2 separate regions of the Homo sapiens genome follow, and region 2 is linked to region 1. The links come from fine-mapping of genetic effects on gene expression. Tissue or cell type: whole blood. Region 1 holds a variant in brackets; the other region holds the start of a gene. All regions are shown on one strand. Distances are from middle to middle.

Evidence for each region. PIP is the estimated chance that this variant, and not a neighbour inherited with it, causes the effect.
Region 2: MANBA starts here. The variant in region 1 is fine-mapped to the expression of MANBA in whole blood (INTERVAL, PIP 0.97).

Annotation. Positions count from the first base shown.
Region 1 is chr4:102,938,221-102,946,220 of GRCh38, reverse strand. It overlaps SLC9B1 (solute carrier family 9 member B1), which reads left to right. Exons shown (of 12, transcript NM_139173.4): 6 at 901-1,028. Among named protein-coding and RNA genes, the nearest start is that of CISD2, 73 kb to the right of the region's middle. RefSeq lists an enhancer at 7,629-8,000. The variant A/G (reference allele first, on the strand shown) is at 4,326.
Region 2 is chr4:102,757,137-102,765,136 of GRCh38, reverse strand. It overlaps MANBA (mannosidase beta), which reads left to right and starts at 4,169. Exons shown (of 17, transcript NM_005908.4): 1 at 4,169-4,419. The coding sequence starts at 4,243. RefSeq lists a silencer at 4,005-4,134 and an enhancer at 4,225-4,574.

The DNA of each region.
Region 1 (8,000 bases):
TGAAGAGAATTGACTGTGTTGTAAGGTCTTTATTAGCGATCTAATCATTTGCACAGAGATAAATGTCTCTTATATAGCACCTATATTATTTGGGAGGCTCTTCTATGGAGAAGTATGTACTTTTCAGTTAACATAGGATAAGAAAAACCTTATAAAAGTCTTTTTCTTTTTTTAGGGAGATTAAGGATTTCAGTAATTTTTTTATGACATTTTCTCCACAGGATTATGTTCCTGATTATCTTTGCATTATTGTAAAATCCAATCTTTTAAAGCATTTCTTAAAATATTACATTCTAGGGATCATAAATCCCATCTATAAGAAGATGACTATTCATGAATATGACAGCCACTCAAATAAATGTGGCAAATGTGGTTTAATAGAAATAGCTCAAGAGCATAAATAATTATAGCCAATAAGATTATATTCTCCAGCAGAAAGTATGAACCAAGGAGAACATTGAAAAGTTCTCCCTTTTAAAATGAATTATGCAGTTTTTAAGTTATTTTCTTTGGCATGTTGGTATTCTATTTATACTTATTAAGTTAATCAAACAGTTCATATCAAAAAGTTAATGGGAAAACACTAATAGGACACTATTATTATACTATTTATTAGGAAAGTTCAGGAAGGTAGCATTAGCTATTTAATCACAGTAAAATTGATCTTTTAATAATTAAAATATAATAATATTTTTAAAAAGATGAAATTGTTTATAATCCAACCTATGATGACATATAAAATGTAATAGAGTTCAAAGTCCAGTGGGACAATCTGTTGAAATGAGATTTCGTTTAGTGAAAGCTTCTTATGAAAAAAGACTTTATAGTTTGACATTTGTTAAAATAATTTTCTTGTTGGCCATTGTAAATGTATCTAAGTGTGACTGTTTTGTGTTTCAGGCTTTGAGGCATTTGAAGGTCGTTTGTTTCAGATTGGCTGTAGGTCCATGCCTTATGGAGGCAAGTGCAGCTGCTGTTTTTTCACACTTCATTATGAAATTTCCCTGGCAATGGGCATTTCTATTAGGGTAATTTCTTTCTCATTTTTTCTTATGAAAATATTCAATTAAGGATGCTTCATTAAAACTGTTAAAATATTCAGAATGTTGTATAGAAAAGCTCTATTAAAATTCGTTTCAGTGTTAAAATCCTTGGAAAGCAGTTGATTAAAAGCAGAGCCATGTCCCAAATTGTACGAAATTTTTTTAACAAACATTCATAGCCCCTAAATGTTTATCATCAAGAAAATTCACATGATCAATTTATTCCTTTTCATCTGTATTATAACATATCTGTATGTTTTAATCTATCTAATGGCCTCTTCCTCATAGCTGTATGTAAGTACAGTTGCACATTTCATATATATGTATGTGTATATATATAAGTATATTTGAGAAACATTTTATATAGACATAGGTGTATAAATATAAACTCTCCCATTTTAAAGAAAGCAAGCAAACAAAAACTCTTGCCGTATATCCAATGCCCCATCCATCTTTATCTACCATCCATTTGTCTTATGTTTGAATTCCTCAAAATAAGTCTGTAACTACTGTCTCTAGATCCTAACTCCTTTTCATTTCTTAATTCATCAACTTTTGTCTCTGCTTATCCATTCCAATGACACTCATAGCAAAGTTCATCCATTACATAGTTACTACAAAATCCAGTGAATTCTTAAATTAATGTTTATGATAAAATACTCAAATGCACTTTTATTTTAAAAATTAGAACTTTATAAATAAAGGAGGAATGACCTTAGAATATGCCTTCAAATCATAATGCCCATAACTCTACCCAAAGTGACAACTCTTACGAGTTTTTTTCTTCTCCAATTTTTATTTCGGCTCAAGGGGTACATGAGCAGGCTTGTTATATGGATAAATTGCATGTCACAGGGGTTTGGTATGCAGATTATTTTGTCACCCAGGTAATAAGTATAATACCCAATAGGTAGTTTTTCTATTCTCCCCCTCCTTCCACCCTCCACCCTCAAATTCACCTAGTGACGATTGTTCCCTTCTTTCTGTCCATGTGTACTCAGTGTTTAGCTCCCACTTATAAGTAAGAATATGGGATATTTGGTTTCCTGTTCCTGTGTTAATTCACTTAGGATAATGGCCTCAACTCCATCCACGTTGCTCCAAAGGACATGATCTCGTTCTTTCTTGTGGCTGTGTATTATTCTATGGTGTATATGTGCCACATTTTCTTGGTCCGCAGTCTGATGCTCTAACCCTGAGATATACCCCCTCCTATGTGCCACATTTTCTTTATCCAGTTCACCATTGATGGGCATTTAGGTTGATCTCATGTCTTTTTTCTTTTTTCATTAGTTTTTAAGGAACAGGTGGTGTTTGTTTACATGGAAAATATTTTTAGTGGTAATTTCTGAGATTTTGGTGCACCCATCACCAGAGCAGTGTACACTGCACCCAAGGTGTAGTCTTTTATCGCTCACCCTCCTCCTACTCTTCCCCCTAAGTCCCCAAAGCCCATTGTATCATTCTTACGCTTTTGCATCCTCATAGCATAACTCCCACTTATAAGTCAGAACATACAATGTTTGGTTTTTTCATTCCTGAATTACTTCACTTAGAATAATGGTCTCCGACTCCTTCCAGGTTGCTGTGAATGCCATTATTTCATTCCTTTTTATGGCTGAGTAGTATTCTGTCGATGGTGTGTGTGTGTGTGTGTGTGTGTGTGTGTGTATACATACACATATATACACATAGATACGTATATATACACCACATTTTCTGTATGCATTCATTGATTGATGGGCATTTGAGCTAGTTCCGTATTTTTTGCAATTGCAAATTGTGCTGCAATAAACATGCGTGTGCAAGTGTTTTTTTCATATAATGACTTCTTTTCCTCTGGGTAGATACCCAGTATTGGGATTGCTAGATCAAATGGTAGATCTACTTTTAATTATTTAAGAAATCTTCATACTCTTTTCCATAGTGGTTGTACTAGTTTACATTCCCCCCAGCAGTGTGAAAGTGTTCCTTTTTACTACACCCATGGCAACATCTATTTTTTTTTTTTATTTTTTTGATTATGGCTATTCTTGGAGGAGTGAGATGGTATTGCATTGTGGTTTTGTTTGCATTTCCCTAATAATTAGTGATATTGAGGATTTTTTCATGTTTCTTGGCCATTTATATATCTTCTTTTGGGAAGTGTCTATTCATGTCCTTAGCACACTTTTTGATAGGATAATTTGGTTTTTTCTTGCTGATTTGTTAGAGTTCCTTATAGATTCTGGATATTAGTACTTTGTTGGATGCATAGTTTGTAAACATTTTCTCCCACTCTATAGGTTGTCTTTTTACTCTGCTGATTATTTCTTTTGCTGTGTAGAAGCTTCTTAGTTTAATTAAGTCCCATCTATTTATCTTTGTTTTTGTTGCCTTTGCTCTTGGGTTCTTGGTCATGAAGTCTTTGCCTAAGCAAATGTCTAGAAGGGTATTTCCAATGTTACCTTCTAGAATTTTTATAGTTTCAGGTGTTAGATTTAAGTCTTTGATCCATCTTGAGTTGATTTTTGTATAAGGTGAGAGATGAGGATCCAGTTTCATTCTTCTACATATGGCTTGCCAATTATCCCAGCACCATTTGTTGAATAGGGTGTCCTTTCCCAACTTTATGTTTTTGTTTCCTTTGTTAAAGATCAGTTGGCTTAAGTATTTGGCTTTATTTCTCAGTTCTCTATTCTGTTCCATTGGTCTATGTGCCTATTTTTATACCAGTGTTATGCTGCTTTGGTGACTATAGCCTTATAGTATAGTTTGAAGTCAAGTAATGTGATGCATCCACATTTGTTCTTTTTGCTTAGTCTTGCTTTGGTTATGCGGGCTATTTTTGGGCTCCACATTAATTTTAGGATTGCTTTTTCTAGTTCAGGGAAGAATGATGATGTAGATTGTTTTTGGCAGTATGGTCATTTTCACAATATTGATTCTACCTATCCATGAGCGTGTGATGTGTTTCTATTTGTTTGTGTCATCTATGATTTCTTTCTGCAGTGTTTTGTAGTTTTCACTGTAGAAGTCTTTCACCTCCTTGGTTAGGTATATTCCTAAGTTCGTTTGCTTGGGGTTTTTTCTTTGGTTTTGTTTGTTTGTTTGTTGTTTGTTTGTTTGTTTTTGCAGCTGTTGTAAAAGGGGTTGAGATCTTGACTTAATTCTCAGCTCAGTCACCATCGGTGTATACCAGTGCTACTGATTTGTGTACATTGATTTTGTATCCTGAAACGTTACTGAATTCATTTATCAGATCTAGGAGCTTTTTGGATGAGTCTTTAGGGTTTTCTCATT[A/G]TATGATCATATAATCATGAATAGCAACAGTTTGACTTCCTCTTTACTGATTTGGATGCCCTTTATTTCTTTCTCTTGTCTGATTGCTCTGGCTAGGACTTCCAGTACTATGTTGAATAGAAGTGGTGAAACTGGGCATCCTTGTCTTGTTCCAGTTCTCGGGGGAATGCTTTCAACTTTTCCCCATTCAGTATAATGCTGGCTGTGGGTTTTTCTTTCTCTCTCTCTCTCGGGTTTTTTTTTTTTTTTTTTTTTTGAGACGGAGTCTTGCTCTGTTGCCCAGGCTAGAGTACAATGGCCCAATCTCAGCTCACTGCAACCTCTGCCTCCCAGGTTCAAGCAATTCTCATGCCTCAGCCTTCCAAAGACCTGGGAGTAGCTCCCCAAGCTCGCCAGCATCTGTTACTTTTTGACTTTTTGATAATAGCCATTCTGCCTCCTGTGAGGTTGTATCTCACTGCAGTTTTGTTTTGCATTTCTCTAATGTTAGTGATGTTGAATATTTTTCCATATACTTGTTGACTACGTGTTTGTCTTCTTTTGAGAAGTGTCTGGTCCTCTCCTTTGCCCATTTAATGGGGTTGTTAGGTTTTTGCTTGTTGATTTTTCTAAGTTCTTTTTGGATTCTGGATATTAGACTTTTGTCGAATGCATGGTTTGCAAATATTTTCTCCCATTCCATAGGTGGTTTGTTGATGATTTCCTTTGCTGTGCAGAAGCCCTTTAGTTTAATTAGATCCCATTTGTCAATTTTTGTTTTTGTTGCAATTGTTTTTGGCGTCTTCATCATAAAGTGTTTTCCAGAATTGAAATTTCCTAGGATATGTCCAGAATGGCCTGTGTCCAGAATGGTATTTCTTAGGATATCTTCCAGGGTTTTTATAGTTTTGGGTTTTACATTTAAGTCTTTAATCTATCTTGAGGTGATTTTTGTAAACGGTGAAACGTATGGAGTCCAGTTTCAGTTTTCTGCATATGGCTAGCCAGTTATCCCAGCACAATTTCCGAGTAGGGATTCCTTTCCCCATTGCTTGTTTTTGTCAAGTTTGTTGAAGAGTAGATGGCTATAGGTGTGCGGCTTTATTTCTGCGTTCTGTAACCTGTTCCACTGGTCTATGTCTGTTTTTGAGTTCCTTATAGATTCTGGATATTAGTACTTTGTTGGATGCATAGTTTGTAAAGATTTTCTCCCACTCTATAGGTTGTCTTTTTACTCTGCTGATTATTTCTTTTGCTGAGCATAACCATGCTGTTTTGCTTACTGTAGCATTGTACTACCGTTCGAAGTCAGGTAGTGTGATGCTTTTGGCTTTGTTCTTTTTGCTTAGGATTGCTTTGGCTATTTGGGCTTTTTTTGTTTGTTTGTTTTTTTGGCTCCAAATGAATTTTAGGATGCTTTTTTTAATCCTGTGAAAAATGTCATTGATAGTATGATAGGAATAGCATTGACTCTGTAAATAGCCTTAGGCAGTATGGCCATTTTAACAATATTGCTTCTTCCTATCTGTGATCATGGAATGTTTTCCTTTTGTTTCTGTTGTCTCTGATTCTTTGAGCACTCGTTTGTAATTTTCATTGTAGAGATATTTCACCTCCCTGCTTAGCTGTATTCCAAGGTATTTTATAGTTTTTTTGTGGCTATTGTGAATGGGATTGCATTCTTGATTTGGCTTTCAGCTTGGATGTTGTTGGTGTATAGAAATGCTACAGATTTTTGTACATTGAGTTTTGTAACCTGAAACTTTGCTGAAGTCATTTGTCAGATCTGGGAGCTCTTGAGAGGCTACTATGGGGTTTTCTTGGTATAAAAGTGTTTCACCTATGAAGAGGCATAGTTTGGCTTCCATTCTTCCTATTTAGATGTCTGTGTTTCTTTCTCTTGCCTAATTGCACTGGCTAGGACATCCATTACTATGTTGAATAGGAGTAGTGAGAGTGGGCATCCTTGTCTTGTTCCAGTTCTCAAAGGGAGTATTCCAGCTTTTTCCCATTCAGTATGAAGTTGGCTGTGGTTTTGTCATAAATGGCTCCAATTATTTTGAGGTATGCTCCTTCAGTAACTCATTTGTTGAGGGTCTATATCATGAAGGGATGTTTTTATTTTTAGTTCTATTATATGATGAATCACATTTATTGGTTTGTATATCTTGAACCAAACTTGCATCCCAGGGATAAAGCTTACTTAATCATAGTGGACTAGCTTTTTGATATGCTGCTGGATTCAGTTGGCTTGTATTTTGTTGAGGATTTTTGCATCTATGATCATCAGTGATAACTGTCCTGAAGTTTTCTTTTTTGTTGTGTCTCTGCCAGGTTTTCATATCTGAATGATGCTGGCCTCATAAAATGAGTTAGGGAGGGATCCTTCCTCCTCATTTTTTTGGAATAATTTCAGTAGCATTGGTACCAGCTCTTCTTTACACTTCTGGTAGAATTTGTCTGTGAATCTGTTGGGTCCTGGGCTTGCTTTTTTTTTTTTTTTTTTTTTTGGCTCAGAGACTTTTTATTACTCATTCAGTTTCAGAACTCATTTTTGATTTGTTCAGGATTTCAGTTTCTTCCTAGTTCAATCTTGGGAAGTTGTATGTTTCCAGAAATTTACCAATTTCTCATAGGTGTTCTACTTTGTTTGCATGAAGATGTTCATCGTAGTCTCTGAGAGTTTTTTGTATTTCTGTGTGGTTGGCGGTAACGTCCACTTTGCCATTTCTGATTGTGTTTTTTGGATCTTCTCTCTCTCTTTTTTTTTTTTCCTTATTGGTCTAGCTAGTGACCTATCCAATTTATTTATTCTCTCGAAGAACCAGCTTTTAGTTTCATTTATCTTTTGTATGGCTTTTCATGACTCAATTTCATTCCATTCTGCTCTGATTTTGGTTATTTCTTTTCTTCTGCTAGCTTTGGGATGGTTTCCTCTCGTTTTTCTGTTTCCTTTAGGTATGATATTAGGTTGTTAATTTAAGATCCTTCTAACTTTTCAATATGGGCATTTAGCACTATAAACTTTTCCCTTAACACTGCTTTGCCTGTGTCTTAGAGAGCCGAGAATGTTGTATCTTTGTTTTAATTAGTTATAAAGAATTTATTGGTTTCTGCCTTAATTTCATTGTTTACCCAAAAGTCATTCAGGCACAGGTTGTTTAATTTCCATGTAATTGTATGGTTTTGAGAGTTCGTCTTAGTGTTGACTTCTATTTTTATTACACTGCGGGTCCAAGAGTGTGGTTGGCCTGATTTCAGGGGTTTTCTTAAATTTATTGAAAATAATTTTAGACTGATAGTGTGATCAATTTTACAATATATGCCATGTACAGATGAGAGGAACATATATTCTGTTGTTGTTGGGTGGAGTGTTCTGTAGATGGCTGTTAGGTCCATTTAGCCAAGTGTTGACTTCAAGTCCTGAATATCTTTGTTCATTTTCTGTCTCTTTGATCTGTCTAGTACTGTCAGTGAGATGTTGAAGTCTCCCACTATTATTCTGTGGTTATCTAAGTTTCTCTATAGGTCTCTATGAACTTGTTTTATGAATCTGAATGCTCCAGTTTTGAGCACATTTATCTTTTAGACAGTTAAGTCTTCTTGTTGAATTGAACCCTTTATCATTACGTAGTGCCCTTCTTTGTCTTTTTGATTGTTGTTGGTTTAAAGTCTATTTTGTCTGAATTAGGATAA
Region 2 (8,000 bases), 180 kb after region 1:
ATGGTGCTTTTCATCTCTAGCATTTTTTATTATTTTTTAGAATTTCCATGTCTCTGCTTACGTTACCCATCTGTTTTTGTATGTTGTGTAAATTTTCCATTAGAGCTCTCAGCATATTAATCATAGTTATTTTAAATTCCTGGACTGATAATTCTGACATTCCTCCCATATGTGAGTTTGGTTTTGGCATTTGCTTTGTCTTTCCAAGTTGTATCTTTGGCTTTGTAAATTTTTGTTGAAAGCCATACATGACATCCTGGGTGAAAGGAATTGCCATAAATAGGCCTTCAGTGATGTGTTGGGAAGGTGTTGGGAGAGGGAAAATGGTCTATTTTCCTCTGATTAGGTCTCAGTCATCTAGTGAGCCCAGTCCCCTGGACTGTGAACTTCACAGTGCTTCTCAGCTATGTTTCACCCCCTTAGATGGGGCAGAATGTCTATGGGGGGCTGGAGTTGGGTATTTTCCTTCTCCCAGGCTGGCGAGACTCTGATAAAACCCCAGTTGGTTCAGCTCTGGTAAAATTGTTTCTTTTGAGAGTGGGTCTTGTTAAGAAGCACAGAATCTCTGGCACATTCAGAATAGTTACTTTCCTCCTCCCTTGCAGGAAACACGAGAGGATTTTTCTTCAATCTTCACTATGAGAGCTTTGTGGAGCTCCTGGAGGCAAACTTACAAAAGCACAGCTGCTCCCCTAAGACTGGGCCCCCTTGGAGTTTTTAACTCTCAAATTTGTGCATATTGGTCCTCCAGTAATTTGTCAATTATAGTCCAGGTCTTCCTACTCTGTACTGGTTCCCACTGAGATTTCAGCTATGGGACAACGGTTGTGGGGTAGTGTGTGTGGTCTACTCAGTTAAGTTGTAATTGCCTGTATCTACCTGTCTACATCTCTAATTTTGGGGCAGCAGTCTGCCCTGTGACCTCACTTCTTTGACTCATCTAAGAAGAGTTGTCTATTTTCAATTTGTGCAGCTTTTTACTTGCTTTTTAGGATAGAGTGATGACTTCCAAGGTCCTTACATGCCAGGCCAGAAATTGGAAATCTATTATTGTTTTGACCCATGCATTATTTAGGAATATAATATATTATATTCCTAATTATATAATTATATTATATAATATAATTATATTATATATTTTTATATATTTATATTATTATATAAATTATATATATTTAAAATATATATTTGTATATGTATGTATATATGTATATATACAGTATATGTATGTATGTATATATACAGTATATGTATATATATACGTATATGTATATATGTATATATACAGTATATGTATATATATACACAGTTTGCTGACATAGGCCATGTGTCCTCTAGTTGACTTCTTGGACTCTCTTGGGTAGAATCCCATTATACTGGCTCAAGCCTGGTTACTTCCTACGGTGTCCTCTTGGTTTATAGGAAACTCATGCATATGCATCCTTGACACACCAAATTCTAGTGGTGTACATAGTTTCCACTACCTTCTCTCTTTGTTCTAACATTTGGGGCTTCAAACTCTGGGGAAGTATGTCAAACCTTTGGGCAGGATACTTATGGGCTATTATCCCCAGTCCTGGGGTTTAATCAGACACTATGAGTCTAAAGGCAAATGTCCACTCCACATCTGATTACTCTTTCATTTTCTTTCCCTTATTATAACTTCTGTAATATATCATGGGATTGGAATATCATTGGCCTTGGTATATACCATGGTGTTCTAATGAGTTTACCAATTTTATATATTTAGATATGAAGGAAATGTTGTCATATAGCAAAGGGCCTAACTACTTCCATTGGTCTGTTGTGACAGGATACTGACCCTACACATCATTTAATCACCGTGGGCATTATTTATCTTTTTAAACCAGGGAACGATCACTTGTTCTAAATAATTCAAGTTTTGGGAAGCATCAAATGAAATGATCAAAATGAAATCTGTTTATACAGTGTAAGTTAAAGATACCCATAACTATTTTAAACATTGCATTTGGTATCATGACTTTAAATTACATAAGTTGAGAAGTTTTATGTTATCTCTAAATAAGGTTTATTTACCAGAAAATCATGGACAAAAATTATCCTATAACAAAATGAAAACATCATGTCATCTGTGCCAATTGCAATTTTAGGAAGAGTACTTATTAGGGCTTTGATTATTCTTTGATGTTCTCTGTTGTCAAAGTGAAGTAACCTAAATGATGTTATGCTTGCATCCTGGAATGAAAGGAGGAATGAGAATCTTCTATTATTGTTTTTCTAAAAATTATATTTCTTAATAAACAGAATATATCCATATGTATCATCAAGGATGAATTTTCCTCTGATTTGGCTTAATGAAATCTCTGGGAATTATGAAAAAATTCCTTTGCCGCTCTTGTTGCCATAAACCTTGTGTTATCAGTGTTGCACAGACCATGGCTAGCCATTTAATGCCGTGAATTATGGCATATAATTTGAATTGAGAGCTTTGTTTCTATCAAAGGTAAAAATGCTTCTGGAGTGAGTGAGGAAGGCTTTGAAGCAGTGAGAGCGTTTCCCCTATAGCATCATTGGGCTCTGACAGTAGGACCTTGAAGAGGAGGGTTCTAATCCTGTCTGCCACTATGTGACAGGCAAGTCACCTGATCTTTTTTTTTTTTTTTTTTTTAGAGTCTTTCTCTATAGCCCAGGCTGGAGTGCAGTAGTGCCATCTCGGCTTACTGCAACCTCTGCTTCCTGGGTTCAAGCGGTTCTCCTGCCTCAGTTTCCCGAGCACCTGCGACTACAGGCACGTGCCACCACGCGCCCAGCTAATTTTTGTATTTTTAATAGAGACAGGGTTTCACCATGTTGGCCAGGCTGGCCTCGAACTCCTGACCTCAAGTGATCCACCCGCCTCGGCCTCCCAGAAGTGCTGGGATTACAGACGTGAGCCACCGCGCCTGGCCCCGATCTCTTTGAACTCAGTTCCCTCATCTGTAAAGCCAGCGGCTTGGGTTGGATAATCCATACTGTCCTTTAAGCCAAGATATTCAGGGCTTGTAAATAATGCTGACTTTGCAAAGTAAGATATTGCCCGGTGTCTGCAGAATCAGGCAATTCCAAGGCCATTGTAAGGCGAAACAAAGCTCAGATTTGATGAGAGAAAATTTCTTTTCAAGGACTTCTTCCGAAGCATAAATATACGGCAGATAGCGTCAACACAGGAGAAAGGCAGTCTATTTTATGCAATGTAAAATTCCGTCTTAACTTCTAGGATTACTGTTACATCCTATTGCAAAAATGGGACTCAGGTAGACCATTTGACTACAAGACCCGAAATAAGTCAGTGGTATTTCTTGGGTACTCTGGCATTGTTAGGGACGATCACATATGTTTACTCATTTTATACTTATAACACCTTGAAAACTTCAAGAAACGGAGATGGAGATTTTGCGGCTTGCCCAGGTCCCACAGCTAGTGAGTGCAGAGGATTTTAAACTCAGCTGCGCGCCTAGTGCAGGTTCCAGAACCTCAGAAACCTCCGTGGGGCTTTATGAAACATAAGGACGCAGGCCGCTAGTAACAATAGCTAACGTGAATGCCTTCTCTGGGCCAGGCTCCATGCTGCATGCTATAGTCGCATTTTCTTGGTTAGCCCTCAGAACAACCTTCTGATGGAGATACTGCTAGTACTTGTTTACTCTTTGAAGGGCGGGGTAGGCTCTGAGACCCGCGAGTTGAGCTGCAGCGGGGTGAGTGTTACGCTACCAGGTAGACGAGGGTCTGTGTAAATTTGGCGGAAGGGAAGTGGTGGGTTGTCTCCCAGTTTGGGTTCTCTGAAGGAGTGAGGGGACTCTCCAGCTATGGTCTCCACGTACAGTCGGTCTCTGATCTCCCGAGGCTTTGTGCCACTGCGCGCCCAGGGATCTTTCTGTCCCAATTACCGTGCAAGATTCTTGCCTCCAGTTGTATGTACTGAGGCGGCGGGAAGAAGCGCCGAGGGAAGGCTCAGACCGCAATGCCCCCCAGCCTGTAGCTATTCTCGGGGGCTGCAGCTCCCGCACCCGCGACGCCCGGCTTTCAGCGGGTGCAGGCGCAGCCTCCTCGTTCCCCTCCCGCCCGCGGCTGCGCCCGGAGAGCGCTCAGCTGACCTAGGGGCGGGGCCGGGGCGGGGACCTAAAGCCTCGGCTACTTCCGAGGGGGTGAGTGGCTTCACCGCCGGTCCCTTGCAGCGCTGCCTTTCGATCTCTCCACATCTCGGTGGCGCGGGATCTCAAGATGCGCCTCCACCTGCTCCTGCTGCTCGCGCTGTGCGGTGCAGGCACCACCGCCGCGGAGCTCAGTTACAGCTTGCGTGGCAACTGGAGCATCTGCAATGGGAACGGCTCGCTGGAGCTGCCCGGGGCGGTCCCTGGCTGCGTGCACAGCGCCTTGTTCCAGCAGGGCCTGATCCAGGTATGGCGTGCGGCCGACCCGCGGCGAGCCTGCGCCCGCCTTCTTCTGGTGCTGAGAGGGGCCCAGGAACCGCCTGGCAGCCCCCAGCTCTGGGCCATTCTCGTCGGTTTGGTAGTAACTTCCCCTTTGCATCTTGTGATCTGCGGGGGGAAATGCCCAAGCTATGGGGTACGGGCTTGACGGAGACTGAGCGACCGACCCATGTTGGGACATCAGTAACTCTGGAAAGGGGAAGTTTAGATAGGGGAACAGTGTTGCTACTAGCAGTTTACTTACTGCAGTCGTTCTCTACTGAAGCGTGTATACAAAGGGCATGCCGTCACTGACAAGCATAAGGTCGGGAATTACTGTCTCTACTGTCTGCACGCCACAGGGGACAACAGCGTTTTGTTAAGTAAGGGTTAACTCTATTGAGTAATGTCTCGGTTTTTTATTTTCGCTGTTAAGCGTCAGGGAGTCAGATTTGGGATTGACGCAGCACAGACGTTGTGGAGAATGACCTACAAGAGTAAAGTTGGGTTTGTCAGTGCTAGTGTGGCTAACAACGGGTAAATAATTTTTAAGGCTAACTTGGTGATGAAGAAAGGTGCTATTTCCTCTCAGGGCGTGTGTGTGTGTGTGTGTGTGTATCCCAATGGAGTCTCCAATTTACAGACTACTTGTGGGGAACGTTTTCGTGTTTGGCTGCCTGTGCGCATAGGTTTGCAAACTGACTTCCATCCTCCAACTGCTTTTGCTGTTCCCTCTTGCACAGCGTTCCCACGTGTTGTCTTTACTTGGGGCAAAATGTACTTGTAATTGATCTACTTGTGGGATGCATACATTGTCCAATCCTCATAACAACTCTGTATAGTAAGTGTTCATATCTGAATTTTATGGATAATATGGAATTATGGAACACAGAGAAATTAGGAAGGTGACAGCAACTAAATGGAAAGAAATGGAATTCTAACCCAGGTGGTCTCAACTCCATAGCCTGGTCTCTATACTATGTGGTATGCTTAGTTTGGTGTTTTAAAAAATCATGTGTTTTTGAAGCACTGTGGCTGACTTTCAGGAGCACCATTCTAAGTTTATTTGCATGACAAGGTGGTCATCTAGGGTTGTGCCAAATTTCTGACCTGGTACTTAGTAGTTTTTTTTTTTTTTTTCCTGAGATGTGTATCAGAAAGGAGGTGAATGTTGTAAATGACATTGACCATTGTCCGATGTATTTTTAGAGTAGATCATTCCCAAACTTTAGTACTTTATTTTAAGTTGACAAACTACTTGTGATAGAGAACACAGCTGACCACAGTATACTCTGAGTTTTCACTTATATCTGCTTTGAGAATGCCTGTGTTTATTTTGTAGGGTTCCTCCTTGCCTGATTTTACTGAAATAATTAAGCCAATGGGTGCTGGTACGTGAGAGCTTTGGGAGGCCAAGGTAGGAGGATCCCTTGAGTCCAGGAGTTCAAGACCAGCATGGCCAACATAGAAAGAGTCTATGAGGCCGAGGTGGGAAAATTTCTTGAGGCCAAGAGTTCAAGACCAGCATGGCCAACATAGAGAGATTCTATCTCTAAAAAAAAAAAAAAAGAAAGAAAGAATTAAGCCAATGGGAAATAATGAGTGGCTTCAGTAAGTCAGATTATTGTGCCATATTACAGAGCTAAGAAGCTAAGAAACAACGTTTGGTTACAACAGATACTTAATGAAAATGAATTTGCTCATAGTATGAAATAACTTCCTCATAGGAACAATTTGAAGAGATTTCTTAACTCTCTTCATAAATTCTTAGCAAAACCTTGAGGTTTCAATCAGGTGGCCATGGGTCTCAAATGGCAGTGGAATGAGAAATGGGAAGGCTTTTGGGGCTTAGGAAACACAAGGCCTGTTGAAAATAATCATCAGGCTGGGCACAGTGGCTCATGCCTATAATCCCAGCACTTGGGAGGCAGAGGTAGGTGGAGTTTAGACCAGTCTGGGCAACTGGCGAGACCCTGTCTCTACAAAAAATTAAAAAATTAACTGGGCGTGGTGGCGTACACCTGTGGTCCTAGCTACGAGGGAGGCTGAGGTGGGAGGATCGTTTGAGCCCAGGAGGTTGAGGCTGCAGTGAGCCGTGATCTGTACTCCAACCTGGGCAACAGAGTGACACCCTCTCTCAAAAAAAAAAAAAAAAGAAAAAAAGTAAAGAAGCAATCATCAACATCAGATCAGTATCGTTATTCAGTAATGTGAGACTGTTGTCCGACCTGCTTTATTATAACATCCCTTTTTGGTGTTGACTTGAGGAAATATTCTACCGTTTATAGTAGACACTGGGCCAAATATTGTGTTTGTGTAAGAACTTGAAACATATCTTGGTGATATCATTCATTTATTTATCTATTCACCTAGTTAATTATCTCATATTTATTTTGTACCTCTAATGTGGCAGGCACTATTCTAAGTACTTGAAATCGAGTGGTAAAGAAAACAAAGTCCTTTCCCTAATGGACATTCTAATGGAGGAGATAGACATATATACCAAATTAATAAATAATGTAAGGCAGGTGGCACACTGAAGAAAAATTGAGCAGGTTAAAGGAAGAGACAGTGAAGGCTGGTTGGAAAGCATTGCTATTTTTTAAAAAGTGGTTCAAGATAGGTATTTTGATAAGGTGACTTCTAAACAAAAAGACCTGTTTGAAAAGGTCACTTTTAAGGAGAAGTGCATTTCCAGCAAAGAGGAAAAACACAGGAGTGGGGAGGATAGAGGCCCTGAGGCAGGCACGAGCTTGACAAGTTTCAGGAATAGTCAGCAGGCCAGTGTGGCTGGAGACCTGGGAACCAGAGGGTAGGAGAGGAGTTCAAAGTCTAGGGCACATCATGAAAGGCTGTGAGCCATAGGAAACACTTTGGCTTTTATTCTACATGTGATGGGAAGTTATTGGAGGCTTTGAGCTTAGAGTAGCATGATTAGATTTGCCTTTTTAAAGGTCACTCTGTTGTGTGAAGGCTACAGTGCAGGAGAGTGGAAGCCTGGAGACCAACCAGGGGACTATTGCTGGTCTATGTATGGGCAAGAGATGACTTCTGGCTTGGACAAGCATGGTGGCAGTGAAATGGTGAGAATGGTTGTGAGAACACGTTTTACATGTAGAAACAAGAGGATTTCTTCAGTTGGATTTGTTAATGGATTGGGAGACAGAAGGGGGAGGTGCAGGAAAATACCAGGATTTTTTTTATCTGAGCTGGTTAAATGAAATTTGTATTTAGTGAGAGATTCTGTGGCTAGTCTTGGCTATTTCCTAGGTGATTCTCTGGGTTTTCTGTACAGAATCTAAACCTTTGGTTTCTTAGAGAGTCTTTTGGGTTCTCTGTGAAAAGTTATTCCTTCAGCCTGCTATTTTTTTTTTTTTGAGACGGAGTTTCGCTCTTGTTGCCCAGGCTGGAATGCAATGGTACTATCTCGGCTCACCGCAACCTCTGCCTCCTGGGTTCAAGAGATTCTCCTGCCTCAGTCTCCCAGGTAGCTGGGATTACAGGCATGTGCCACCATGCCTGGCTAATTTTGTACTTTTAGTAGAGACAAGCTTTCTCCATGTTGGTCAG